Homo sapiens: one gene and its partners. The protein of the gene in region 3 interacts with the protein of the main gene of each other region in a biochemical or structural test. Each region holds a gene or a part of one and is shown on either strand. Other genes may lie near its edges.

Region 1 (6,971 bases), about 81 Mb from region 3:
GGTAGTTTGTTTAGATACTGGTTCTCTGCACATATGAAGTCTTCTGAATTATCACGAGGCTTTTTTCTGAGATGGAAGGAAAGTTAATATGGAAAATGCAATACGTGTGTAATGTTTTGCTTTGCTTTTCCTTAAATTTAATGCCATTTTTAATTTCAAACTTCACACTTTTCCTGCAGCGGGTGGTTTTACAGAATCATTATAAGTTGCTTTGAAGGGGACTTCTGCACTTTAGGGAGTTGGGGTGGCAGTGAGGGAAGGTTGCTGGTGGGAGCGTTGAAGACCTTTGCAGAGCTAAGATTCTGGGAATTTACTTCCATTTTTCCTCTTAAGACATACTAACTTACAAGGTAACTTGTTATACTGAGAAAAGGAAAAAGGTTTCCTTACAGTAAGAAAAGCTATTCTAGAAATTCCTTCATGCTCTGTCTCACTTGTATCCAAACTATATTGAGACTACGATTGTTTAGGTGAGGCTACAGAGATACTCCTTCAAAGAAGCAAACAACTCATTTTGCATATCCCTTTTACATGGGATCAAAAGGTACCCATGTCCCTGGATCACTGAGTTTTAATTTTTTCCTTGAGAATCATAATGGTCATATTGCCCTATCAATTGAGGTCTTTCCTCATAGAGCTATCTATGGACATGGGAAAGAAAAGCATTGCTTCTACTGTTTACACAGTCATCTAATCGCATGGTGATTTCAGCAACCCTGTGAAGTTGGGCTGGTATTACTACACCCTCTTCAAGAGCCGGCATAAGGGAGGGGCTGGGGAGCCACCACCGTGCAGTGGAGGGATCCTCCAGGGATTTCATACCTTCTTCTTCTAGAGCATCATTTTCTTTTGTCCTATATTATCCATGTGGATCAGAAAGCATTCCTTCTGCGGAAGCCTACTGACTTCTAATGCTATATATATATTTTTTTTTTCCCTCGGGACAACATATTCTTTTATTGTGGTAGAATACATGTAACGTAAAATTTACCATCTGAACAATTTTTAAGTGTACAATTCAGGGGCATTAAGTACAGTCACATGTTGTGCAACCATCACCCACATCCATCTCCATTCCTTTTTTATCATCCCCAACCGAAGCTCTGTCCCCATTAAACACGAATTCCCCATTCTCCTTTCTCCAACCTGTGTTAACTTCTATCCCTTTTTCTGTCTCTATAAATTTTACTATTCTAGGTACTTCATACAGGTAGAATTACACAATATTTGTCTTTTCTGTATTTGGTTTATTTCATTTAGCATAATGTCCTCAAGGTTCATCATACTGTAGCATGTATTGGAATTTCATTCTTTTTCAAGGCTGAATAATGTTCCATTTTCTGTACATACCACATTTTGCTTATCCATTTATCTGTGGATAAATAGTTGGGGTGTTTCTACCTTTTGGCTATTGTGAATAACGCTGTTATGAACAATATTGTGCAGACATCTTTTTGAGTTCTTCTTTCAATGCTTGTGGCTATATATGTAGAGGTTGAATTGCTAGATCAAATGGTAATTTTATATTTAATTGTTTTGAGGAACTACCACACTGTTTTCTACAGTGGCTGCACCATTTGACATTCTCAGCAGCAACACACCCTTATTCCTATTTCTCCTTATTCTTGCCATTATTTTCTGTTTCTTTGATAATAGGAACCCCAATAGATGTGAAGAGGTACCTCACTGTGGTTCGAATGTGCATTTCTCTGATGATTAATGATGTTGCCCTTCTTTTCGTGTGTTTATTGGCCATTTCTGCATCTTTGGAGAAATGTCTACTCATGTCTTTTGTCCACTTTTAGATCAGGTTATTTGTTGTTGTTGCTGTTGAGTTGTAGGAGTTCTTTATATATTTTGAGTATTAAGTCCTTATTAGATATGTGATTTGCAATTTTTTTTCTCATTCTGTGGACTTCCCTTTCACTGTCTTAATAGTGCCCCTTGATGTACAACATTTTAAAACTTTGATAAAGTCCAACTTATCTATTTTTTCTTTTGTTGCCCAAGTTTTTTTTCCTGGGATAAGCTGTCATATCCCAGGAAATCATTGCTAAATCCAATGTCATGAAGTTTTCTTCTTTGATTTTTTCTAAGAATTTTATAATTTTCATTCTTATGTTCAGATCTTTGATAGATTTTTGTTAATTTTTGAGTATGGTGTAAGGTAGGAGTCCAATGTCATGCTCTTATATGTGGATACCCATCTAATGTTATATTTTTGAAAATACTGTTTAAAACAAAACTTACTGTTTTCCTGGGCATTCTCTAGGCAATTTATGACAGTGGTGGCTTATTTTGCACTATTAAGATTTCTAGTTTATGTTCTTCCACACCGTAAAAGGCCGTGTCAGAGGAGGGAGCTAAGGTCCTGAAGAGTTGCTTTCTATATAAACTCAGCATAGACAACTCCAGACTTCAGAACCCCTTGACAGCCACACTGTACACCCTTATAGAGCAAGAATCCAAGTCTTCTCAACTTTGTTTTTTTCAATTATCCTGCAAACATAGTGAATACAGTTGTAATTAGTTATGATTGGTATAATTGACCGTGGGCTCTTTAAATGGGGCAGTGTGCTGAAATTGACTGGGTTACAGGGGCAGGCTGAAGCTTCCCTAGCTCTCTTCATAGACTTCTTTTGTAGCATGTATTACATTTTTGGGGGGAGATCGTTGATTTATGTGTCTGTCTCCTCACTACAATGCAAACTTGCTATCTTTCTAGTGCCTAGAACAGTGCCTGGCACAGGCAATTTATTAAACTAAAGTGAACCAATAGCATTACCTCTTCCTTACTTCCAAGTTAATGTGCAAAGGCAGAAGATGAGCAGTAAAATCTTGCTTTACTTACAATGTCATCTTAACTGCATTGCCAGCTTTATACAATGAAGGCTGATGATGATATGGCTCCAAATGACAGTTATTAGATTTTCAAGGATTTTCTAAGTTTGTATCTTTATTAAAAAGAGAAAGAAGCCAACTATGACAAATCTTAACTCCCACCTCCTACTCAAAGAAGATGGAATCTTTTAGGATAAAAGTCTTAGATTAAGCAGCCAAATACTGACTTCTCAAAAAAAATTGTAATAACTCCATTCATAGAAATGAGATTATGCTGTAACATTCTTACCATAGTCCTGAATATGTGAATAAAAGATGCTGTGTATTTTCACTTAGGACAGATGTAAGATTTTCATATTGTTTACATTTTCCCTAAATGAGAAATGTATGAACACTTCTGCCCTTTTATTCCTGCACCACGGACCATGAGTCAGGGCTGCTAAAAGTATCCTTATTTTAGAGATTGCCTAAAACCAGACTTATATGAAAAGGGGATTTTTAGCTTTACTTTTCAGAAATCCCAAGTCCATATCCAGTCAGCTCTCTTCCACAAAATTATTTTCTTTTCTTTAGAAAATATCACATTTCATATCAAGTTATTAGAGAGAAACGGGAAGCCTGAGCAGGTGACTGGGTGGTGGACGTCCTGTGTTTCTAAAGCAATCCCTTTCCCTCACCTGAGACCTTGCCTAGGTTAATGGGGGCTCCATTGAGAAAGTCAAGGAACATGAAGCATGAATATTTACATATTCAGCAGAGAGTAAATGCATCAGCAAATGATGAGGTGAGATACAGTGTTATCCCACTGAACTAGTTCCCTTTTGCTCATCTCCCTCCCTGTTACTCTCCAAGGCTGAGTTATATTCAGCTGAAGCACAATTTGAAGAATACGAAATAATGTGTGATTTGGTGCCACCACTGTCAATCAACAGTGCTTTCCACCTAGACTGCTGTGCCTGTGCCAGTGGCTGCTGTCCTGGTGCCAGGGGCAAGAGGAAGACTGCCTTTTTTCCAGCTTTCCCTGGCTTGACCACACCCCCCAATTTAAGGAGGCAGCTCTATTAGAAACATTATGGTCTTTGCATCCTCTTAAGCTACGGAGCAGAGGATTCCCGCAGGTAGTTGGAAAGAGACCACAGACTTTGAGGGAAGCTCACTCAGGATCTGCTCTCCGGCAAAGTAGTAAGTGAGGTGTGTGTCAGTTTCTGCCTAAAACTTTTCAGTCCATTTTCCTTTTCCTGCTTTAAAAAAATTTCTGTGGAATTAAAGAGTAAGTCGGTAGGGAGATTCAGGATACAAGTGAGTTTTCTCTTTCTCTTTTCACGTCTTTCTATATTCCCATTTAATTGTTTAACAATTTTCAAAAATACTTCCTAACCTCGTCAGAATAGTCTGAAAGCAAGACTATGTTTTTAAAAATGTTCCCTGCTTCACAAAAGTAAAACCATGCACGTTTTAGATACCCGTAGATTACTTGTCAGAAACCCTGATTTTTTTTTTTTTTTTTTGCAAATTGGAGCACTTCCAAAGAAATAAAGCTGTAGTTAAATATATAAATTTCTTTTTATTCTCTTTCACTCCTAGTAAATCTATTGTTTTACTTTTTTCTCCTGCTAGTAGTTTAATGAATTGCTTTTAATAGAGAGGAAATTGCTACAGGTTTGAATCTTGCTAGCCAAACTAGCCTGTTTGGTGTTTTTCTCTGTCTTGGGACTGACCTGCAGTTGTCCAAAGATCTACAAGTTCCTAAGTCTGTTGTTGAGACATGGTGTGGGTGTGGGCCGCGGTTGTCTCAGAGTTAGGGAGGTATTTCTTGTCCCCACGGTAGAGCTGGACTCAGTGGCAGGAGATGTCGATGGCAATTCCTCTGCATCCGGTGATTTTATCTGGCCGTGACACTTTGTATGTGACTCCTCACCCACCGTTAAAGGTCTCTGTTACCAACTTTTAAAGTAGTATTTTCTTCAGGCAAACTTAAAAGGGTGCTGGGTCACTGAAATCAATGCATTCTATTGCAGGATTTCTTTATCACCTTTTGGGTAAGTTTTTGTTTTTAATCTCAAGTCCATTTTCCTTCTTACTTTAGACCACTGCCATGCAACTGAGAAAAAAGTATTTGTTAAACAGCAGGAAATACCAATTCTAAAATGATAACTCCATCAGCTCCATTTGATTTGTAAAATTACTGATACTATAACTCTTTCATCAGTTGTGGTTTTGGGTTTGGTGGCCTATTTTTATCCAAAGAGAAAACGCTTTTTCTTCAGGGGCCGTGGGCTGTGCACAAGGGCTGCAGGGTGGCCACTGCTGCTGTTGAGAGTCTTGCTCACCTGTTGTTCCTGAATGGAGGGAAGGGAGAGCTAATGGGTTAATGTCTGCAAAGTGCTTTGAAGATGAAAAGGTCTTTTCATGTGTTCAGTAGTGCAGTTATTAATATTAATATTTGAAGAAGCATGCTGCTTCTAATTGTAAATCAACTACTTCCATCCTTGCCAACTCAATAGTGAAATAACAAACAGTTCAGGCATCCATGCAGCCTCTTCCGTCCTGGTTCCGCTGCTGAGGATGTGGGAAGCCAAGCCGAGAGCCTAATTATGGAGGGGGCATCTTTGCCCGGCAGGCTCCTTACACGGAGGTGCTAGTTGCTGGCTGTGAAAGGATGTCCTGAGGCAGAGCCTGGGGGAAGCTGGTAGAGGGGTGGGATCCTTTGGCATCTGGCAGTCTGTGGCCAGAGCACCGACTTGGGCCAGTGGCCGGTCCCGGACGATAATGGAGTTCAAAGGCAAGTGGGGTCAGAACTTGAACCAGCGCTGGGTCGGAGAAGGGAAAGTGGCTGTGCACTTGGATTATGTCAGTGATTAGCTTTGTAACAGAGAACAGGGATTGAACGTGTCTGTGCCTTCTTCCCTTCATCTCTAAAAGGTGAGCAATCATTTGCGCCCCGCCTGGTTTACAAATATGAGAGAATAGAAGTAAACAGCATAGGGCTATGAAAAATCAGAGTGCCAGTGAGGTCAAGGACTGTCTGAAGTAATACTTCAACAAACTGGGTGTGTGGGTGCAGGTCCTCTCACCTAGGGGAGGGTGAGGCAGAAGGCAAAACACTGCAAACAAATAATCAACAGATTTCTCTCTTTGATTGCACTGGTGAATTTCTTACTGATAACTGAGGTTCTGATGTACCTTGTGATTTTAATTATTGGTGAATAGATCTGTTTTCCATAGTGACTATCATTTTCTAATTACCAGTTCAAAATTCCCAACTGTTCACATCAAACAGCAGAAGGGAATGATTACGTCCCACGAGCTGGGACCCTTCCTTCCTTCCTTGCTTCCTTCCTTCCTTGCTTCCTTCCTTCCTTCTTCCCTCCCTTCCCTCCCTTTCTATCTTTCTTTTCTTTTCCTTCTTTCTTTCCTCCCTCCCTCCTTTCTTTTTCTTTCTTTCTTTCTTTCTTTCTTTCTTTCTTTCTTTCTTTCTTTCTTTCCTTCCTTCTTTCTTTCTTTCTTTCTCTTTCTTTCTTTCTTTCTTTCTTTCTTTCTTTTCTTTCTTTCTTCTTTCTTTCCTTCCTTCCTTCCTTTCTTTCTTTCCTTTCTTTCTTTCTCTTTCTTTCTTTCTTTCTTTCTTTCTTTCTTTCTTTCTTTCTTTTCTTTCTTTCTTCTTTCTTTCCTTTCTTTCCTTCCTTCCTTCCTTTCTTTCTTTCTTTCTTTCTTTCTTTCTTTCTTTCTTTCTTTCTTTCTTTTCTCTTTTTTCTTCCTCTTTCTTTCTTTTCTCTCCCCTCCTTTCTTCTTCTTCTCTCTCTCCCTCTTCCCTCCTCCTTCCCTTTCCTCCCTTTCTTTCTTCATTATGGAAATGATAAAGTATTTAGCATTTGAGCAAAATTAATGTGGTATGCAGCAATTTAGTGGCATTTCAGGCAAATCTTTTAAGTTTCTTCAATCCTGGGAAAAATTAGATGTGAAGACATAACTTACTTTTTGCTTCCTCATCTCCTTTATCCCTGCTGTACTGAAAGTATAGCTTATTGAACTCCACCTTTTAATGTAGATGATTTTCTAGTTATCATATCCATTCTTCTTCATTTCACCTAAGGAGGAATACTCAGCCCTAACGTTTACTGAGCACTTGGTAT
Region 2 (7,023 bases), on a different chromosome or scaffold from region 3:
AGGTGGGCATGGTGGCGCATGCCTGTAATCCCAGCTACTCGGGAGGCTGAGGCAGAGAATCGCTTGAACCCAGGAGGCGGAGGTTGCAGTGAGCTGAGATTGCGCCACTGCACTGCACTCCAGCCTGGCGACAGAGTGAGACTCTGTCTCAAAAAAATAATTTTTTTTTTTAAGGACTACATCGTTCTTTGTTAGTATCTTTGGGATCTGTTGAATTGTGTCATTACTTATTTCCTCCAGACACAGCAGCAGATTGCTGTCCAGGGACAGCAAGTGGCACAGACTGCTGAAGGGCAGACCATCGTCTATCAACCAGTTAATGCAGATGGCACCATTCTCCAGCAAGGTAAGTGTACCCATAAGCTTCCCTAGGACTTTTTGGGGCAACTTTTTTGTCCCTTAGACAACTGACATCTTTAGAATTTGAGTGGTGAACTTGACACTACATATTTTTTGGACAAAAAAAAAAAAGATTTCCTCTAGCTCTCCATTGATTGTTGGTTTCTTGTCACCATCTGTGACCAACAGTGATTCCATGTGTAGCAGTTTCTATAGTGGTTGCTAATCTAGGGATTGTGTAAGCTTTTAGGGAAGAAGTGTTTCTAAACAGAAGAATAGAAATAGGGAGTTCATTGGTAAAGAGAGAAATAGATCAAAAATCAAGTTGGCTTTAGAGTGCTATTGCTGCTTATGTTTTTTTCTGGGTCATTCCATTACTTTAAATGACTATTATGTATACAGCACTTTTACTAAGAAGGGTCCTCAAAGAGCCTCTAGTCTAGTAAGAAAGACGTGAACAAATAAATACAATGCAGGGCCCTCATGGAAGTATGTTCTAGGAATAGATAACATAAATAATAGATGTTTGGTCTGGGAGGAGGAGTGCAGAAACTGAACTTGAAGGCTTTTGGAAGCACCTGTTAGTCAAATAGTTAAATCAAAAAAGGACATCTTTGTTAGATTCCATGACTTTGTGATTGCAAATTTGCAATATACAGGATCCAGAGAGTGCACTAACTGTGTGCTCTTGTATTACTCCAGGGAGGCCCTGAACTGGATTGAGCCCAGGCAAGAGCTCAAACAGAATGGTGAACAAATCCTCAAGTGCTGCTATTGATAGTCTGGGGACTTGGAATGCTTGGTTTAATTTTAAGTTTTAATACTACAACTGACTCATTGTCAGTTTGAGATAAACAAAGTATAAGTTTTAAAATCTCTGTCCTGAAGCAGATTGCTCATTATGTACAAGAGCAGTAGGTATAGCTGTAGTCAGACTGACCTGTAGAAGAGGAGGCCTCCAAACCTTTTCACCTTTTGAAAACTGCTAAGGATAGAGTTACTCAAAACTGGGACCTAGACAGTTAATAGAATTTCAAAGATTGTGATTACTTAGATTATATATAGCACACCACAGTGGGAGAGTACTTTTTCTCCCCTTGTGTTTTTCAGTGTGTTTTGCCAGGATCGGTGAGTGTATACCAGATAGAAGAGGGACTAACTATGTTCCCTTCTTTCTGTTCTGTGTGCCTGTTTTTTGTTTGTTTTATGTTTTGTTTTCTTAAAGTTACAGTCCCTGTTTCAGGCATGATCACTATCCCAGCAGCCAGTTTGGCAGGAGCACAGATTGTTCAAACAGGAGCCAATACCAACACAACCAGCAGTGGGCAAGGGACTGTCACTGTGACACTACCAGTGGCAGGCAATGTGGTCAATTCAGGAGGGATGGTCATGGTAAGAAAATGTATTTTTCAGCTTTGTCTTTGAAATTTTCTTGAACATGCAACTTGATGCCTCCTAAAATTTATTATGTTGACCTCTTGGGATTGAGATCGATCCTTAAGGCACTGTCGGTAATCTACTTTGACAATAACATTATGACAAACCATAATTCATTCTGAGCACCTACTATGTGCCAGGGACTATTCACCAGGGACTATTCTAGATGCTGGAGATAAAGCAATGGATAAATAGTGATTTTATGGAATTCTTTTCAGAATTCAAATAACGAAGGGAATTATATACTAATCTTTGAGAAGTGGAAAGTAGTATTGCCCATGATGGACAAAATAAGAAATAAGCTAAAAATTAGAAAGATTGTAATTGATAGAGAAACCAAAAAAAAAGTGTCATGTAAATGTATTGGGAAGATAGGAAGATTTGGGTGGTGTAACTGAAAGCTAAATCCTCATATGTCAAAATAGGATGTTAAAATGCATAAATTAAGAATGAGTAACAGAAGTCTGCACAGAGGTGGAGGAAGCTATGAAAAGAAACAGAACCAACCCTGGCTCAGTGGCATGCACCTGTAGTCCTAGCTACTTGGGAGGCTAATCCAGGAGGATGGCTTAAGTCCAGGAGTTTGAGCTCAGCCTGGGCAATGTAGAGAGACCTCGTTTCTACGAATTGAATGAAAAATAAATAATTTTTATAAAAGATTCAATACAGTTATTCAAAGCGGTTGTATTTGGGAAAGAGCTGTGGGGTACAGGACTCTGTTACTTGTTTTTACCTACATTTAGTACAGTGTTTTGGTGTTTTTTAAGAAAAATTAGGATTGAATTATAAGTTAACTATTATTTTTATAAATATAGGCATTTAGTAGCACTTGGTCTATCTATTTTTGTGCTGTTTTTTTGTCTTATGACTACTGTTCCTGACCATTAGATGGCAGCAGAAATATCTAGAGCCATGGGTGGACATGAATTAGGGCATGGTTATATAGTTTCTCAGAGTGGCACCTGAATCTCCTATGACACAGTCATCTGGGGTGTTTGTTTAAAGTGCAGATCTTTAGTATAAATTTCTCCAGGGATCCGCATTTACCCAAGTACCCTATAAAAATTACTTTTTGTGGCATTTACAAAAAAAATGGATGAAGAGGAACCAAGAAACTGTTTCTATGTCCATACTTCATGCCACCAATAAGCTCTGGTTTCCTGTTCACACAGATGGTTCCTGGGGCTGGCTCTGTGCCTGCTATCCAAAGAATCCCTCTACCTGGAGCAGAGATGCTTGAAGAAGAGCCTCTCTACGTGAATGCCAAACAATACCACCGTATTCTTAAGAGGAGGCAAGCCCGAGCTAAACTAGAGGCAGAAGGGAAAATTCCAAAGGAGAGAAGGGTATGTATAACATTGGGAAGGATATAGGAAAGGAGAATAGCAGGGTTCTACTTTTGAAATTATCTTTTATATGGCTTGTTTTCTCACGTACCTTCCAAACAATTGACGTTAGATACTTGTTGTCTCTTTTGTAAGAGTTAGCATTTGTTATTACTAATATGCAGCTGCAGTTATAATAACGAAAACAAACAGTGGCTTAAATAAGATGTTATTCCTTTTCATACATAAAAGTAGTCCAGAGATAAATTATCCTGGACTGGTAGCACATTTTCACAGTTCTCAAGACCTGTTTCACTGCTTTAATATTGCTAGTGTGCTGTTCATGGTCCAAGATTCCTGCTTAGGCTCCAGCCTAGGAAGAAAGGGAACAAGAAAGGTACCCTTTCTTTTTTTTTTTTTTCCTGAGACTCAGTCTTGCTCTGTCATCCAGGCCGGAGTGCAGTGGCACAATCTCAGCTCACTGCAACCTGCACCTTCCATGTTCAAGTGATTCTCCTGCCTCAGCCTCCTGAGTAGCTGGGATTACAGGTGTGCGCCACCACGCCCAGCTTATTTTTGTGTTTTTAGTAGAGACGGGGTTTCACCATGTTGGCCAGGCTGGTCTCGAACTCCTGACCTCAGGTGATCCACCTGCCTGGGCCTCCCAAAGTGCCGGGATTATAGGCGTGAGCCACCATACCCGGCCAGGTACCCTTTCTTTCAAGGAAACTTTGAAGAAGTTGTGTACCTTCCACTAGCCGGAATTTAGTTACCTGATCACACCTAACATGCAGATAAGGCTAGGAAAGTCCAGCCTGGTGTGGTGGCAAATGCCTGTAGTCCTACTTGGAAGGCAGAGGCAGGAGGATCACATGAGCCGAGGAATTCAAGGCTGCAGTGATTCATGATCATGCCACTGCAGTCCAACAGCAAGGGTGTCAGAGTGAAACCCTGTTTCTAGAAAATAATAATAATAAACTTTAATGCTAGGAAAGTCTTTTTACTGAACACTCATTTGCTCAAACGAAATTTGGCCTGTTATTAAAGCAGAGGAAAGTGTATATATTGTGAAGTGTAGGTGGTAGTCTGTTATTTTTTTTAAAAAAAATTCATACTATAAGCATTCACAGTCTTACAGTAGTTATATATGGTTAGCTATATTACTTACTAGGTGTTTTCTCCAAAGCTTCCATCGTCATTCTAAGTCATAATTGTCCCTTGTGACTTTGATCCCAGCTGTCTTAAACTTTGGAGAATGGAATTTGTGCACTAGATAACTGTGCTGGTTCTGGATAGTATTAATAGTTAAATGGTTTTATTTCTCGTTTTAGAAATACCTGCATGAGTCTCGGCACCGTCATGCCATGGCACGGAAGCGTGGTGAAGGTGGACGATTTTTCTCTCCAAAGGAAAAGGATAGTCCCCATATGCAGGTAGGAAGACATATACATTTTATTCTTCTCTTTATTACCTTGTATTGACTTGAGTTGAAGCCTTCAGCAGTGTCCTCTTGCTATTTTCCTACTCTGGGACTACTCACATTCTCTAAACTGGATGCAATCTTATGTCTCTTTAGATTATCTTTTATCTTAAAACCACTAGGCCAGACTTGGTGGCTCATGCCTGTAATCCCAACACTTTGGGAGGCTGAGGTGGGAAGCCCAGGATTTCAAGACCAGCCTGGGCAACATGGCAAAACTCCATCTCTACAAAAAAATACAAAAACTAGCCAGGCCTGGTGATGCATGCCTGTAGTCCCAGCTACTTGGAGGGTTGAGATGCTCTTCGTCTTTGTCACTTATTACTATTCATTCTTTCTTGAAAATCACACTTTTCTTAATTTTCAAGGAACAAGTTTTATTTTTATTGAACAGGTTTTATTACCCCATCACAAATATAATTTGAATGTTTACTTTTTTCCCTTCTAACTGATGTGAGCCTGGTCTAATCCTCTCTTCTTTGGCTTAGATTTATAAAATAGCTGCTTAATTTGGTTTCCCTTCTTCCACTTTTGTTCCCCTCTAGCCTACTCTCCACATCCTAGTGTGATCTTTTTAAAATGTTTATCCTATCAAGTCCCTGTTCTGCTCAAGCTCCTTCAACCCCTACCCTTTCCCATTTGCACTTAGACTGACATCCAAAGTGCTTACTACTATGCCCAGCAAAGCCTTACATGCTCCAGCTCCTGTCTACCTCTAACTGCATTTCTACTTCTTGGTCTCTATGCTGCTGTTTACTGTTCATTGGTCTACTTCCTGCCACGGGTCTTTGTCCTTAGAATTTTCAGTCTGTATGCCCTTTATCTTTTTCATGCATGTCTATCTCCCTATCTGTTAGGTCTGGGTTTAATTAAATACCCTATCTAGAATAGATCTCTTCTCTCTCAGTATGTTCTTACAACATCTTTTCTTTTTTTGGAGGCAGTGGTGTGATTATGGCTCACTTTAGTCTTGACCTCCCAGCTCAAGTGATCCTCCCACTTTAGGCTCCCGAGTAGCTGGGACTATAGCCACGCACCACCATGCCCAGCTAATTTTTAAATTTTTTGTAGAAATGGAGTCTCACTTTGTTGCCCAGGCAGGTCTCAAACTCCTAGGCTCAAGCGATCCTCTCGCCTTGGCCTCCCAAAGTGCTAGGATTACAGGCGCACACCATTGCACTTGGCCCTTTTCTTTACAGTGTAATAATATTTAAGTTGTTGAATTTTTCAAGATTGTTTCCTTCACTAGACTGTAAGTTGTATAGAGGGTAGAGGATTGTTTCGTTCTCTGTTATATTTATTGGACTTAATTCTATTTAAGTAAGTTGTATTTAAGTACTGACTTAGATGTATTTGTTGGGTTTAGTATCCAGTTCTGAACCAAGCAATCAGTGTTTCTTGAATTAATAGATTCCTCCCATTTGCTGATACTCCATTCTATATTAACATCACATTCCACTTGCACTATTGCAATATCCATCAAATTAATCTCCAGTCTCCTCTAATTGGCCTTATATAGTACTTATACAGTACATGGTTAAAGTGTTTTTTTTAACCTGCCAGTCCCCAGGTCAAGGATGCATGCTATTAATAGTTCTCATTTCTTAACTGCATCAAATCTCAAACTATTTCTGTATAACATCTAAGCAACTTTGCCTTATCACCCCCTCAACAATCAAACTAGGTTTCCTCAGTGTCCCCACACATGAACACTAACAACTCTTTCAGTGCTATTAATCCTCACCTGTAGTGTGAGAGCCCCTCCTTTCTCATTGCTATTCATTCATAACGGTGTATGAATGTGGGCCTGACAGCTATTGTGGCAGGAGGGCATTGTGCCAGGAACTCTCCTCATTCTGTGTGCTAACAATATGATCTTGGTCAATTCAGCCTCTTTTATTTTTATCTGTAAAGTGGAATACTGTTGATACTTCACAGCAATGTTGTAGGGATTTCATTCAGTAATCCACATTAGGCATCTGTGTAGCACCATACCTAGTGCATGGTGAGTTCAGTAAATGCTAGTTGTTTTTGCTCATTGTTCAAGACCCAGTTCCAGTCTTCCATCTCCAGAAGGCTTTCAGCTTTTTCTCAGATCCTGCCTACCAAGGCTTCAGAGCCTTGGTATGGGGGAACTAAAGGTGGTTCTTGCGGAGTGTTGCAAAAAGCTTCCAAGGATTTATCCTTGTGTTAACACGGTAGGTCTTAAGTGAGAAACAGCATATAGAGTTTAGTGGAAAGAAGATGAAATGGGAGTCAGGAGATTTGGGAGTTAGCCCTTGCTGGACTCCTAACTTTCTGACCCTGACCCTAGTCCACGCAAATCACTTTACCCATCTGGCCTTCAGATTTATCTGTAAAACGAGTACATTAAAGTGTATAGATTCTAATGATTCTTTCTAGCCCTGCTAAGTACTCAGTATTTAAATGATGATCAAAAAA
Region 3 (7,023 bases):
AAACGTGGCACATGCGCAAAACGTGGCGCGCGCATACAATGGAATATGATTCAACCTTAAAGATGAAGGAAATGCTGACACGTGCTACACCATGGGTAAATGGGTAAGCCTTGAGAACATTATGCTAAATGAAGGCATAAAAGAACAAATACTGTGTGAATCCACTCATGCGGGGTACCTAGAATAGGCAAATTCATAGAGACAGAAAGTGGAATGGTAGCTGCCAGAGGCTGGGGGGAGGGAAAATGAGCTGTTGTTCAGTGAATACAGAGTCTCCGTTTTGCAAGATGAAAATAATTATAGAGATGGATGGTGATGATAACGTGAATATATTTAATATCACAGAACTATACACTTAAAATGTAAAGAAATGGTTAAGATGGTTTAAAAAATGGTTAATATTATGTGTATTTTACCACAATTAAAAAGAGTAATAGGCTGGGCATGGTGGCTTATTCCTGTAATCCCAGCTATTTGGGAGGCTGAGCCGGGTGGATCACCTGAGGTCAGGACTTCAAGACCAGCCTGGCCAACATGGTGAAACCCTGTCTCTACTAAAAATACACACAAAGAAATTAGCCAGGTGTGGTGGCGCATGCCTGTAATCCCAGCTACTCGGGAGGCTGAGGCAGGAGAATCACTTGATCCCAGGAGGCAGAGGTTGCAGTGAGCCGAGATCACGCCACTGCACTCCAGCCTGGGTGACAGAGTGAGACTGTCTCAAAAAAGCAAACAAACAAACAAAAAGCATAATAAACAATAGCAAATCCTGTAAGCCCTTCAAAGTCTATCTTGAATCTGTCCCCCCCTTTCTGTCTCTGTTGCCACCACCCTTGTCCAGGTCACCACCATCTCTTTCCTGGATTATTGCAATAGTTTCCTCAATGTTCTTTTTTCCAGCTCCTATTCTTGCCTCTTTTCCATCTGCTCTCCACCCAGAGTGACCTTTTAAAAAGCTTACTCAGTTGAATCATGAGACATTGGGAAAAGATACTAAAAACTTCCAGAGAAAGAAAACAAAAGAGAGAGAGAGAAAAAAAAAAAACAACAAATGAAACAAACAAAAAGCTAGGTTAATTATAAAAGAAATTTAAAGGAACATGGAGTGGTATCAGACTTCATAGGAAAAACTCTAGTAACCAGAAGACAGTAGAAAAATGCTTTCCAATTTCTAAGGGAAAAAATGATTTTCAACTTAGATTTCCATACACAGCCAAACTATGATTAATTAAGTGACAGCATAGAATAAAAGACATGAGGCAAAACACAAAATAAAACCATCACCACCACAACAAAAACCTCACCTCCCACACACCCTTTCTTAGGAGACGACCATGATAACAAATCTGTACAAAACATTTGCTATTTCCAGGCACTGTTCTAAGCATTTGACATACAGTAGCTCGTTCAGTCCTTACAGCCATCCTGTGAAGTTGGTATTGTCATGAAGAAGTTGAGGCACAGAGAGGTTGGAGATCTTGCCCATGGTCACCCGGATAGCAATGGAGGAGATGGGGGATGAGTTTCAGCAGCCTGGTTTCAGAAGAGTTCTTATCTCCTTGCTACATTTCCCCTCAGAAATATGGGGATGAGGCCCGGGGACAGTGGCTCACGCCTGTAATCCCAGCACTTTGGGAGGCTGAGGCCAGTGGATCGCCTGAGGTCAGGAGTTTGAGACCAGCCTGGCCAACATGGTGAAACCCCACCTCTACTAAAAATATAAAAATTAACTGGGCATGGTGGCACACACCTGTAATCCCAGCTACCCAGGAGGCTGAAGCAGGAGAATTGCTGGAACCCGGGAAGTGGAGGCTGCAGTGAGCTGAGATTGCACACTGCACTGCAGCCTGGGCAACACAGAGAGACACCGTCTCAAAAAAAAGAAAAAAAAAAAGGCCAGGCATGGTGGCTCACGCCTGTAATTCCAGCACTTTGGGAGTCCGAGGCGGGCAGATCACTAGGTCAGGAGTTCAAGACTAGCCTGGCCAACATGGCGAAACCCCATCTCTACTAAAAATACAAAAATTAGCTGGGCGTGGTGGCGGGCACCTGTAATCCCAGCTACTCAGGAGGCTGAGGCAGGAGAATTGCTTGAACCCAGGAGGCTGAGGCTGCAGTGAGCAGAGATTGCGCCACTGTGCTCCAGCCTAGGCGACAGAGTGAGACTGTCTCATAAAAAAATAATAATAATTAAAAGAAATATGGATATGAGAAAGTACAGGTAAAGAAAGGATGCCATGTGGCTCAGCTGTGAGTAATAGCCACATGGTCATAACAGTGGAAAATTCAAATACTGATTTAACAAATGTTACCATATAGAGTAATGAATTGGGGATGTGTGGAGAAATGTGAGTGTGTGTGTGTGTGTGTTGTGAATGACTAAAGTTGAATTCTGATTGTACAAGTAAATAAAATATATCTCTAACTGAAAAATCAAGCTGCCTGACACATCAAAGGCACTCAATAAATATTTGCCAATAAATAATGCTCTAAGTCTCTATTCCACATCTTCATTTGTACATTTACATAGCACTGGAATAGAAAGACTGGAGGCCGGGCACGGTGGCTCACGCCTGTAATCCCAGCACTTTGGGAGGCCAAGGCGGGTGGATCACAACGTCAGGAGATCAAGACCATCCTGGCTAACACGGTGAAACCCTGCCTCTACTAAAAATACAAAAAACTAGCTGGGCATGGTGGCACTCGCTTGTAGTTCCAGCTACTCGGGAGGCTGAGGCAGGAGAATCGCTTGAACCCGGGAGGTGGAGGTTGCAGTGAGCTGACATCACACCACTGCAATCCAGCCTGGGCGACAGAGCGAGAGTCCATCTCAAAAAAAAAAAAAAAAAAAAAAAAAGGCAAGGCGTGATGGCTCATGCCTATAATCCCAGCACTTTGGGAAGCCAAGGTAGGAGGATCACCTGAGGTCAGGAGTTTGAGACCAGCCTGGCCAACATGGTGAAACCCCATCTCTACTAAAAAATACAACATTAGCTGGGCATGGTGGTGCACACCTGTAATCCCAGCTACTTAGGAGGCTGAGGTAGGAGAATCGCTTGAACCTGGGAGCCAGAGGTTGCAGTGAGCCAAGATCACACCACTGCACTCCAGCCTGGGCAACAAGAGTGAAACTCCGTCTTAAAAAAAAAAAAAAAGATTGTAAATGTATTTAAATTTTCAGCACACACACATACACAGAAGGTTATTCAGATCATGGTCATGTCATTTCCCTGCTCAGAACTCCCCAGTGGCTTCCCATGGTGTGTATGATAAAATCCAAATGCCTGCCATGGCCTTCGCCCTGCGTGAGCAGCTGACCCCTTTGGCTTCCCTTTCTGTCCCCTGCCCTGTGCTCACTGGCCTCTCTGGTCCTCTGTCAGGGTCCTTTCTGCTTTTGCATTTTCTGTTCCCTTTACCTTGAATACCTCTCCCCTACCTATGGTCACATGTGAATTACGAGTTCCTTCTCTTAGCTCAGCTGCCACCTCAAAGGCCTTCCCTGACCACTCAAATGAAAGCAGCCCCCCATGTAGACACTCCGCATTACATCTGCAGAAAATGGTCTCTTTGTCTGATTCTTTTTTTTTTTTTTTTGCTGGAGTCTCGCTTTGTCTGTCACCAGGTTGGAGTTCAGTGGCGCGATCTCAGCTCACTGCAACCTCCGCCTCCGGAGTTCAAGCGATTCTCCTGCCTCAGCCTCCCAAGTAGCTAGGAGTACAAGTGGGCACCACCACCTGTATTTCTAGTAGAGATGGGGTTTCACCATGTTGGCCAGGATAGCCTCTATCTCTTGACCTCGTGATCCACCCACCTCAGCCACCCAAAATGCTGAAATTACAGGCATGAGCCACCACGCCCCAGCCTATTTAATTCCTTATGTCCCCATCCCCTCGCTGGAGAGTGAGCTCTGTGAGAGCAGTGGCCTTGTCTGGTGCTCATCATGGACTCCCCAGAGCCTACAAGAGTGTCTGATACTCAGAAACTATTTAATGGATGGAATAGGGAGGAAAAGTGGATCAGATGGGAAGCGGCTGGCAGGATGGACGAGTAGGTGGGTGGATGGGAGGGTGAGTGCATGGATGTGGGGGTGGGTGGCAGATTGACTGTCCCCTGGGTCAGTGGAAAATAACCCAGTTGGTCTCTCACAGAGCCCTCTGTGCTTTTCCCACTCCCCAGCCGCTTTGTCCCTCCTGCCTTGAGGAATGCAGTGAAGCTAGCACGGGCCTCGTCCTCTGCACGTTACCTTACCTCAGAGATTATATGCCTTACCTCGCTGAATCATCACAGCCCTAGGAGGTAAGTATTTTCATGCTGTCAGTTTTATAAATGGGGAAATAGGGACTCAGAAAGGTTATGTTACTTGCCCCAAGTTTTCACAGCTGGTAAGTGATGGAGCCAGGGCTGGGCCAAAGCTTTTTCACTAAGCTTCAGTACCTAAAAATGTGGACAAAGAGGACGTGCAGGAATTGACAGAAGTGTGTGGGGGTCTCTATGGTTGAGTCTTCAGACGATACCTTCCAGCGGGTATAAAAAGGGACAGCCCGGCCGGGCGCAGTGGCTCACGCCTGTAATCCCAGCACTTTGGGAGGCTGAGGCAGGCGGATCACCAGGTCAGGAGTTCGAGACCAGCCTGGCCAACATAGTGAAACCCTGTCTCTACTAAAAATACAAAAAATTAGCTGAGCGTGGTGGCAGGCGCCTGTAATCCTAGCTACTTGGGAGGCTGAGGCAGGAGAATCGCTTGAATCCGGGAGGCGGAGGTTGCAGTGAGCCAAGATTGTGCCACTGCACACCAGCCCGGGCGACAGTACGAGACTCCGTATCAAAAAAAAGGGACAGACTGGGCGCGGTGGTTCACACCTGTAATCCCAGCACTTTGGGAGGCCGAGGCAAGTGGATCACTTGAGGTCAGGAGTTTGAGAGCAGCCTGGCCAACATGGTAAAACCTCATCTCTACTAAAAATACAAAAATTAGCCAGGCATGGTAGTGCACGATTGTAATCCTAGCTACTTGGGATGTTGAGGCAAGAGAATCGCTTGGACCCAGGAGGCGGAGGTTGCAGTGAGCCAAGATTGGGCCACTGCGCTCTAGCCTGGGCAACAGAGCAAGACTGTCCTAAAAAAAAAAAAAAAAGAAAAGGACAGCCCAAATGCCCTGATTGGCAGTGATTAAGAGTGGGACAGAGCCAAGGCCGAGGACACCTGGGAACACTGGTGGAGTCTCTGGAGGAACTAGGGGTTCATGACCAACATGGGGTGCCCAGGCATCCAATCAGGAGTCATTCCTAGAGTCCCACCTGAGATATAAGGAACCTGCTTGGACCCTGAGCCACGAAAACACATGCTTTCTCTAAAGTGCTCACTCCATCAGGCCCAGCCCCAGGCTCACTGGTTTCCAGCTATGTGGGCAGCGCCCTCATATTACAGGAAGGAAAACTGAGGCTGCAAAAGGCCCAAAGGAAACGCACCCAAGCCCAGTGAACTGAAGAGGGATTGGGCCAGGGAGAATGCGTCCTTGTTGGAGGAGGCCTGACAGCACTGTCTGTGGTGACCCGAGCCACCAGGGGGCGCCTGTCCCAGGGCCCAGCGGGACCTCCTGGAGTCCTGGAACCGCTTGGGAAGGTGGGTGCGTGGTCTCTGGGTCCCCCAGACCGGGCTCTTCACTCTGGTAGGGAGAGCTGGGGATGGAGTTGGGGGAGGGGGACTTTCTCTCTACATTGCCTGGGTTTCCCACCAAGAGGATGTGTTTTTTACATAATTACAAATAAGCTTGAAGGAATTAAAAAGGATATTTTAAAGGCTTTCTAGCCCTGAAAGATTCTAAAAGATGCCTGTGCGTTCCCAGCTGTGGCCTGGAGGCATATCCGCCTACCCCTGGGATATGGCTTCCAGTCTGAGTTCCGGATGAATCTGGGGCCCTAAATGTGGACCAGGCACATGTGGATCCCTAGCTGGGCCCATCAGGTTTAGACCGCCACAGGTGCATCTGCAGAATGGAGCTACAGGCATGACTGGCCGCAGGGGTGGCCTTCAGGAGTGACACCTTCCTAGGCTGTGGGCCTCTGCCCTCTGAGGTGCAGACACCCCAGTCGCTGGTCTGCCCGGGTCCCAGACGCCCTGAGGAATTCCCCAGTGACGACTCACCCACTGACTAGGCCACCTCGCTTTGGGTCAGGGATGTCTACATCAATAAGCCAAGATCCACTTTGGGCAACCTCCCGCAGCCCCCTGCTCAGGTCCCAGGCACCTAATGCCTCTCTCCCATCCCCTGAATTTGCTCCAGGACGGAGGCTGGGCTATGGGGCAGACAGTCAGACCCAGAAGGACTGGACAGACAGAAGGACACCCTGGCCCAGGCCTCTTCCTCCCACTTCAGCAAACTGGGGGCCTCGGCCTCTGCTGAACAAGAGGTTCTCATAGGTTTTCCTTCGGCCCAGCAGTTCCCAATTAGGGGTGATTTTGCCTCCCGGGGGGATCTGCCAATGGGTGGAGACATTTTTGGTTGTCATGATTGGCCATGGCCCTGGCATGTGGTAGGTAGAAGCAAGGATGCCACTAAGCTTCCTACGGTACCCGGGACAGCCCACCCAGGAATCATCCCACCCAAAATGTCAGCAGTGCCACAGTTAGGAAACCCTGCCAACCACACATGGCAGGAAGTGCGGATGTGCCGGCGGGGAGTTTGGGACAGAGAGTGACGAGAACAGAGAGGAGGAGGTGGGTAGTTAGGCAGGGGCAGAAAAAAAAGCACAGGACCTGGAGCGGACAGACCTGGGTTCCACCCAGCAGCCGTGTGACCTTGTGCAAGTCTCCTAGCACCCTAAGCCTGTTTCCTTGTTTATAAAGAAGACCACAAGGACAGAACCAGCAGATAACCATGGAAGAAATGAACCCCGCACCTTGACACACTGCAGAGGCTCCATAATGGAGGCTCAGGTGTGGGGGTGCAGCGATGATGCTGCAGTTCACTGCCTTTGAGAGCAAACTTGATCTGATTCTCAGAATTCCAAAGAAGTCCTGGGA
Region 4 (7,971 bases), on a different chromosome or scaffold from region 3:
AGCACCGATGAATGGCCTTCACCTCTAGGGTGATTCCTTGCCCTCCCAGGTTCATGGCTATGGAACTGAAGGCTGGTGGCAAAGCTCTAAGCCTAGCTCCATGGCCTCCACTGGGTGCTCTTACCTGTTTACAACTGAGAACTTTTTAAGTAATTCAGACAACATTCAACTGATAGAACTTACTGGATGTGGCGAAATAACAAAGGCTCACCGAACTATTTAATTTGCATTTATTTTCTTGTTTTCTCTTTATGATCAACATTATGGCTAAACCAGACCTTCCAAGAACCCTGCTACCCAACACACACCCAACACACACACACACACACACACACACATACACACACACCCCTCTTGGCTAAAAGGCAGCAGGTGAGGCCAGAGGCATCAGAAAATTCTGTTAAAACACTCGGAGTGCAGGTAATGATCATGGTAGCCAACAAAGGCTGGTCAGCACTGGCAATAAATAATAGTCCTATGAGAGGACAGAGAGGGGCAGCAGTCTTGGGTCCAAAGTGGCCACATTCACTCAGAATCTCCACTTGGTGGATTATGCCACTTATATTCACTCAACAATCAATAGTCTCTCCTATTGATGGCTGCCATTGCCAGAATGCCTAGTTACTAAGAGCTAAGCCCCGTGCTGGGGGACCATCCACTCCTACCTAATTGAATCTTCCTGCATCCCTGAGAGGCAGACGTCATACAGTGAAGCAACGGAGGCCCAGCAACATGGACAATCTGCCCAGGATCCACATAGCTACCAGAGGGGCCACCGCAGGGCAAAGTGGAGATCAAACCCCAGTTGAGTATGGTCCTAAATCCTGAGTCCTCCACACAGTCCTCTGTGCCGGGAGAACATGAATGATGAGGAATGGACCCTTCCCACCCATCCTGATATTATCAGATCAGGCCCTTCTCACTACTCCTTCCAATGTGAAATGCTCCTTCCTCTAGAGCTTTATGTCATTTCTCTGCATGAAATAAGTCCTGGTAGCTGCTGATTAAAGAAATAAACAAGCCTCAAACAGAAGGCCAAAATCATAGACATCTTGGGTGTTGCCAGTTATCCATCCAGAGCCGGATGGGTCAGCTCTTTTTCTTCCTTAGGCTTGCAGACTGCTTGCTGACTTGATTCTGTTTTTCAGCTTCTCTGAGATGGACAGAGAATGAATGTGGAAGGCAGTGGAAAAGCTCTCCCCAGCTTTTGTGTACAAATACCAGGAGAAAAGGCAGCCTACCACTCCCACATAAAGAGCTGTAATTACTAGCTACAGAATAGAATTCTTTTGTTGTCCAGCTTTTAATGAGTTTTGTAAAAACCATGCAGAATTAAAGTGCTCTACTAAATGGTTTCAGGCAGACACACAACTAATCAAATTTAAGCTTGCTTATTTTACTCAACAGGGCTTGTTAGATGGCAGACAAGCCAAGTTTTTCCACATAAATCAATTTCAAGTTTGGTGTTGCTGATGGATCGCTGCTTTTAAACCAAAAAAAAAAAAAAAAAAGGATAAAGAGCAGAAATGTAACAGCTGAGAATGGTTACATTTAAAAACAAGGAGAATTTGCCTGACAACAGTACCCTTATTGGAACAAGTAATCACTTATGTAAGATTATTTAGATAAATTTGAAAACAAACAAAAAAAAGAAACAACACAACCTTGTAACACACATTTGAAGGTAGTTTGCTTTTTTCGCTTTGAAAGCGATCAGTTTAGAGAGATGAATGACTAATCCCAGAAATGAGTATCTGAGCATTTCCCTGCGGATGGTCGGTGCTAACATTTACTGTGCTGCGCTACTACTCAGAATTTTAATAAAGCTTAACGTGGAGATTTATCTCTCTGATTGGTGGTGGTGTGGGCAGGCAGATAACGCACAGGCGCTTCCATTGTATGGAACAAATATAATCTCTTACTGGCGAATTAAAATAAATTACTCCTGTCTCCAAAGGGGACTGCTCATTTCTTTACTTTCTAAATAACTAGCGCGTCAACTACTGTTTTAGGCTACCCTGAAATTGTGTACAGGCTAACATAAAAGGTCTCCTGCCGTAAAAAATAAAATAGGATAACACACACGCAACCCAAACACACACAAGCAAACACTCAGTTACCTCTTCATTCAAATGCTGTAGGAACGAGAAAATAAAGGCAGCCCAGCGCAACCAGATCTCATTTCCGACAGGTTCCCCACGCTCTCCTCGCACGACCGAGGGGTCCCCAGCCCGGGCCCTGGACGCGGCGAGCAGGTGACCATGGCACCCCGCGCCCCGCAGGTTCCCGCGGTGCCGCAGCCTTCAGGTGTCTTGGGCGCCCCAGATCCTCCGGGCCCGGCGCCGCTCCAGGAAGTCACCCTCAAAGCCGGGGCGCCAGGCCACCTCGGACACGCTCTCCTGTGCCCCCACTCCCGTTCGCGAAATCATGTTCGCCGGGACATCCACTGGGCAGGACCCCCTACCAGGCCTGCGTTTCCTTTTAAAAACAAAAGCGAGCGAAACAAGCCAGCGCGCCCTGGCCGCGCCCGCCGCTAGGCGACCCCGAAGACAGCGGCCCTAGCACGCAGGAACCCCCCGGCCGACCCCGCCAGCCCCGGAGGCCACTCCATAACCGGAAAACGAGCCGGCGCGGAACTCAGACGCGCGCCCCTAGAGTCCTCGCAGCAGCCGCCACCCCCACCTGCACCCCCGGCAGCGCCCCGAGATCTGCGTGTCAGTGCCCCCCGCGACCCCCGCCCAGGCCCCGGGTGACCCTCCATGGGACTGGAGCCGCGCGCCGGGCGCTCTCTGCGGGCCCAGCTCTTACCCTGCCGCTGCGGGCAGGGCCGGCGCTTGGTCGGGACGGTGGCTGCTCGGCGCCCGCGGCTGCTCGGTGCGCGCCGGGCGAGGGCGAGGGCGCCGGCCAGAGACGATCAGGGAGGCCGGACGCTGGCCGGGCGGCTCCGGGAGCTCTGAGCTGGAGCGACACCGCACTCGTCAGTCTCTGGAGGAAGTAACCGGGCCGTCCCCCACGCGGCGCGCTCTTCAGGAGCGGGAGGAGGAGGGAGGAGGGAGGAGGAAGGAGGGACGGCCGAGTGGAGGGGAGGGGAGGAAACGAGGGAGGAGAGAAGAGAGAGGGGAGGGAAGGGGAGGAGAGAGAAGAGGAGGGGAAGGGAGGTAGGCAGGATGGGGAGAAGCGGGAGGAGAGGGAAGGGGGCAGCAGGAGGGTTGGGGGAGCGGAGGGAGAGGAGAGGGAACGCACGAGGGGAGAGAAGAGGAGGGCGGAGGCGGCGAGGGAGCGCGGGGCGGGGCTGACACCTTCCGGCCCAACCTTCCCTCCGCCTCCTGCTGTCACTCGGCTGGGTCCCTCGCCGGCTGGCCCTGAGGCCCCGGGAGCAGGGCCTCGGCCCCACGTGCGCGCGAGTGTGCGCCCTGGGAGCCGGGCGGAGACTTTCCGTGGAGCGCTCGGCGTCCTCTCTGGGGCCAAGGCCCTAACGCCAAACCTGCCTTTGGAATTCCGCAGCGACGGAGCAGTGGTGCTGGTGGCACCGAAGGGCAGCCGGGCTTGGGTAATAAGGCCCTGAAATTGAGCCGACCCCATTCTTGAACCTCTGAATGGGCTTAGGACTAATGATCATTCTATCACAAAAAGGCTCCAAATGAGGCGCTTCCTGTAGAAACCGGGCCCTGGCTGTGTCCCCGAGTCGTGGTGCTGATCGCGCTGCTCCCGGGAAGCCCCGATCCCGCAGGCTCCGCGGGAGTGGCGCCCTCTGGAGCTGAGCGGTGCCCAGATAGCGACCCGCCTTGGCCGCGCTTCAATCTGGGCTGGGCACTCCACGCACATCATCGTCACTCTCGGAGGACTTGCGGCTCCCACTTTACACAGGTGGGAACTGAACCTTAGGATGAATAACCTGCCACGTCAGATTGATGAGAAATTCAAGGTGGAAACCTGAGTTTATCTGACTCCGAAACCCTGGTCAAAACCACCCCCTACACTGTGGTTTCCGTTTTTATCAGAAGGTGCTTGAGTCCATGGCTGTTTGGACTCAGGTCACATGCTCAATATTTTGCAGGAAAGTTTAGATTCCTGAAGTTGTGGATGAAATAGGAAACCCCAGCTTAGGCGAGGCCACGGGGCTGAAAGCTGCTCACATCTCAAGAACTGCGGCACCACCGGGAAGGGAGAGGAATGGCCCAGCTTCTCTGTGACTCAGGGTTCTAGGTTTCCATGGTGACTCTAGGTCTAGAGTTATCCGGATAATTGAGATATCGGTGCACCTTAATGTTTCTGGGTCCCCGAAGGTCTCCGGGTATCACCGTGGCATGAGTCACAGTCAGAATCTATACGGCTGAAACAATCACGTATAGGGGAAGTGATTATTTCTTGGAGACTGAATTGATTCTGATGGCTTCTCAGTGTATATTCAGGCCCAGATTAGAGAACACAGATAGGTCAAGAAAGAGTTCCATAAATGGAATACAGATCCATAGTAAGTTACCATGGAGACATGAGTATGTTACTATTTTTTTAAAAAACCGTAGCAGAAAATACTGACTCATCTGGGCTGCAGTTTCAGCTAATATAGGGTCTTTCTCCCTCAGGCTACTTGCACAGCCCTGAGAAGCTGGGTATAGACAGCTGCTCCCCAAAGCTCAGCTACTTCCCGAAGCTCACTTGCCCCAAGCAGACTGCCTTGTCCCACCATGCCTGCCCTCGTGTTCATGGGTGCTGAGTGCCAGGTGCTCCAGGGCTCCCTGAGTCGCTGATGGGCTCCCTGAGTGGAGCCATATTTCCTCTTTGCAGGGCTGGCACAGGCTGGGGGCTAGGAGGTGGTGCTTTGCTCATGCTGGGCTGTTTCCAACATATATGAGCAGAAAGATATCAAAAGAGGAGCACAGGAGTTTGAAGACCACCGGTTCCCGACAGTGGAACCTTCCTCTGCTCACTAACCTTGGGCCTCCTCTACAGAATAAGGGATGATTATGGAACCTACGTCCTTAAGACTATGGCAAATGACATAGAACCAAATGTGCAGAATATGTTAGAGTGTTGAGTACATGGTAGAGAAGGACTCAAAATGATCTAGCTATTAAGAATCTTTTTCCAAGCTCTCCTCAGGGAGGATTTTATAGAAAACATTTTGAAAAAACTATCATATACACGAAAAAAAAAAAAAAAGTCCTGCCCCTCGCGGGTTTAAATGTGTGAAAGCCTTGGGAAAGGGATCCCGGCCGGAAGACCAAATGGCAGAGCTAAGACGGCAGGGAGGCTGTGGGAAGAGGAAGCTGGGCCTGTGTGCTGGGGTCATCGTAAGCCTAAGCTCCTGCCTCCCACCCAGGTCCCTGGTCCTCCCTATTTCCCCTTCCAAAGAGTCTGAGGCTGCCCCAAGCAGCCCCCTTGCCCTGGGTCCTGCCCTGTAGCTGATCCACCTCTGCACGAGGGCAGTCACATGTTCATAATAAAATGGCTTATCCTAGTTCTGGGGCAATATCAGGGTTCCTTACATTTTTGTCCTTAATACTAGTTGGCTTGCCAGTTACTCAGCAGAATTAAAAAGCAGTCTGGCTGAAGCCAGTGATTATTCATTGACTGTTATCGTGCGATTCACAGGGAACAATGAGCTTTACAGTAAATTAAACCTAATAAATAAAAGTATAGCCCTTGTGCTTGGAGATCAAAAGTCGAGGGTGTTGGAAGGAAATTAAAAGTCAGAAGGTGCACAGGGTGGAGTGATCAGATGCGCTATGGCAGACTGAGTTATGAGCAATGTTAACACTTTCCCCTTAAGAAAGAGGGACATTCACAGAAGAGAGGAGGAAAAGGGATATTACAGTAGAATATATGTGTTACGAACATGAAATATCTAGAGAGTAAAATGCAGAAAAAGAATTCTTTAGAATCCAGACATAATTATGAGAAATGATTAGCTAGCTTACGAAGTCATCCTTTGAAAAAAAACACACACAAAAACGTCTCCTTAGAAACATGTCTGTATTTACCTTAAAATCCAAATCAGTAGTCAACAGGCAGTTTGTGGTGGTTTCCAGTTGCAAGTTAAACAGACGTCATTTGGTCCGAAGTGCATCATTCATTCACTTAGCAAACACAGAGTCAGATGCTGAGAAGACAAATATGATTAAGGCTTAGTTAGTTCCCGCCCTCAAGAAGTAAAAGTGAAGTGCACAGTTCAGTTAAAATCACATGCACAGTGAGACTTTGGTAAGGAGTGGAGGAAGAAAAGAATGAACCTAGAGATAGAAATCATTTCCTCATGTGTAAGCTGCCGCCTGCATCTGGCCTGCTGGGGTGTCTGGCAGTGGTGGCTATTTCACTGATATATGTTGGGGTCAAGGACTTGATAAGCTTAACCCACACTTCCGCCCACCTCCGAATCCAACCAACCTTGCCCATTTGCAGGCTGGCCCAGCTACCAAGAATCCTAGGCAGATGTGGGGCCGTGGAGCTGCCTCCTGCTCCATCAGGGTGGACCCAGATTATGCAAGAGTTGGCCAGTGTCTAGTCTTTTCTGTGAGATTCCTTGGAATGGCAGATAGGGTATTCTGCTGGTGGTCAAAAACGTTGCTAATGCTCCTTTCTAATTCCTTCTGCTCCTTGTCAGCCTCCTTTGTCCCTTGCACTCCCTGTGGGCATGAAGACATGGTTACCCAGCTAGGGCTACCGTCTTCACCTCTGAAGGGCAGCCTGTGGGCCCAGACTGCCTGGGGTCAAATCCCGCCCAGCCATTCCCTAGCAGGCCACCTGTGGGCCCCTCGGGGCCTCCCTCTGTTAATGTCTCCCAAGCACTTAGAACAGTGTCTGGCGTGTCATTAAGTGTGTGATAAATAAGTAGCAGGTCCCCTGGCCCTGGAAGTCTTGGTCTCCTGCGGGCATCGCTGATCACTGCTGCCCTGCACTGGCACTTTTGGTTGACAACAAGGTATAAAATCAATCCCAGTGCTGTCAATGGGAACCATGGTGTCTTTGACTATGTTTTTCTTGCCTTTGGTGGTCAGAAACGAGAAAATGAAACATTGGATTTTAAAACTGGAAAAAACTTCAGAGAGCTGATGGCTCAGACCAACTCTGGTTTGTAAGATGCAGAAACTGAGACCCAGGGAGGATCAATTCCTTGCCCAGGGTCAAATGCCTATTTCCTGGCAAAGCTGGGGCCACACTCCAGGCCTCCTGCCCCCTCGTCCAGCACACTGCCACCCTGACACAGTCATTTTCCCTTATAAGGCAGTACTCTGGGAGGGTATAAACCGCTTGAAAATCCACCATGATATCAAACTGCACAGTGACGTGCTTTAGGCAAGTCTGAACAACCAAAATAGTAATAGCGACCCGTTGTATTCTGTAAAACTGATAATCCCTAAATAAATGTGTCTGAACTGAGTCAGACGTGTACAGATATATGATTTTATAGTTGTGTGTTTTTGTCTGAATCACAAAATGATTCCAACAGTATGCATGGAACTGAATAATCCTCAGTGCATCGGCTTATGTATTTTGCTAACTAGAAAACTGAACCACTAGTCTTCACACAAACCAAGAGTTAGTCATTCCTGTGCCAGTCAGTCTAGCAAATGATTAAGTTAGCTTAACTCACATTTTGGTGACAAAATAAAACTTGGATTAAAGTGTTAAGGCTGAATAATGTCACCGACTTAAGCAGGTGTATAAAGAAATCATTCAGAAGTTGGAATATTTTTAAGTTATAACACGTCTTTGGTGGAATGGCTTTCCAATTGCTGCAAGACTTTCCACCCACGTCTTCCCATTTATGACTTTAAGTGTGTCTCTTTCAGACCGACTGAGCTATTAGTACCTCTTATCTATGGCTGTGGTGTAGAGTCATCCCGCCTCACCTCGTGTTCTCTGCTCCAGGCAAATGCTGCCTTTACCTCTAAATTCCAGTGGTCACCACCTGGGACATGCCCCTTTGGTGCAGGTTGAAGAACCAGAGGAGGGCCAGCACCTCCACTC

Evidence for each region.
Region 1: the proteins of SPI1 (region 3) and ETS1 form a complex in vitro, tested with the Homo sapiens proteins (one study listed by BioGRID).
Region 2: the proteins of SPI1 (region 3) and NFYA form a complex in vitro, tested with the Homo sapiens proteins (one study listed by BioGRID).
Region 4: the proteins of SPI1 (region 3) and ETS2 form a complex in vitro, tested with the Homo sapiens proteins (one study listed by BioGRID).

The regions. Positions count from the first base shown.
Region 1 is NC_000011.10:128,584,549-128,591,519, reverse strand, and holds the start of ETS1 (protein C-ets-1), read left to right. Parts: upstream 1-3,961; 5' UTR 3,962-4,032; exon of another isoform or gene 4,033-4,843; coding exon of another isoform or gene 4,844-4,880; exon of another isoform or gene 4,881-5,180; intron 5,181-6,591; exon of another isoform or gene 6,592-6,971. UniProt on the Homo sapiens protein: Transcription factor. Directly controls the expression of cytokine and chemokine genes in a wide variety of different cellular contexts. May control the differentiation, survival and proliferation of lymphoid cells.
Region 2 is NC_000006.12:41,089,964-41,096,986, forward strand, and holds part of NFYA (nuclear transcription factor Y subunit alpha), read left to right. Parts: intron 1-240; coding exon 241-346; intron 347-1,564; coding exon 1,565-1,731; intron 1,732-2,948; coding exon 2,949-3,122; intron 3,123-4,432; coding exon 4,433-4,534; intron 4,535-7,023. UniProt on the Homo sapiens protein: Component of the sequence-specific heterotrimeric transcription factor (NF-Y) which specifically recognizes a 5'-CCAAT-3' box motif found in the promoters of its target genes.
Region 3 is NC_000011.10:47,368,528-47,375,550, forward strand, and holds part of SPI1 (transcription factor PU.1), read right to left. Parts: intron 1-7,023. UniProt on the Homo sapiens protein: Pioneer transcription factor, which controls hematopoietic cell fate by decompacting stem cell heterochromatin and allowing other transcription factors to enter otherwise inaccessible genomic sites.
Region 4 is NC_000021.9:38,800,958-38,808,928, reverse strand, and holds the start of ETS2 (protein C-ets-2), read right to left. Parts: upstream 3,001-7,971; 5' UTR 2,959-3,000; coding exon of another isoform or gene 2,809-2,958; exon of another isoform or gene 2,121-2,808; intron 1,493-2,120; exon of another isoform or gene 1-1,492. UniProt on the Homo sapiens protein: Transcription factor activating transcription. Binds specifically the DNA GGAA/T core motif (Ets-binding site or EBS) in gene promoters and stimulates transcription.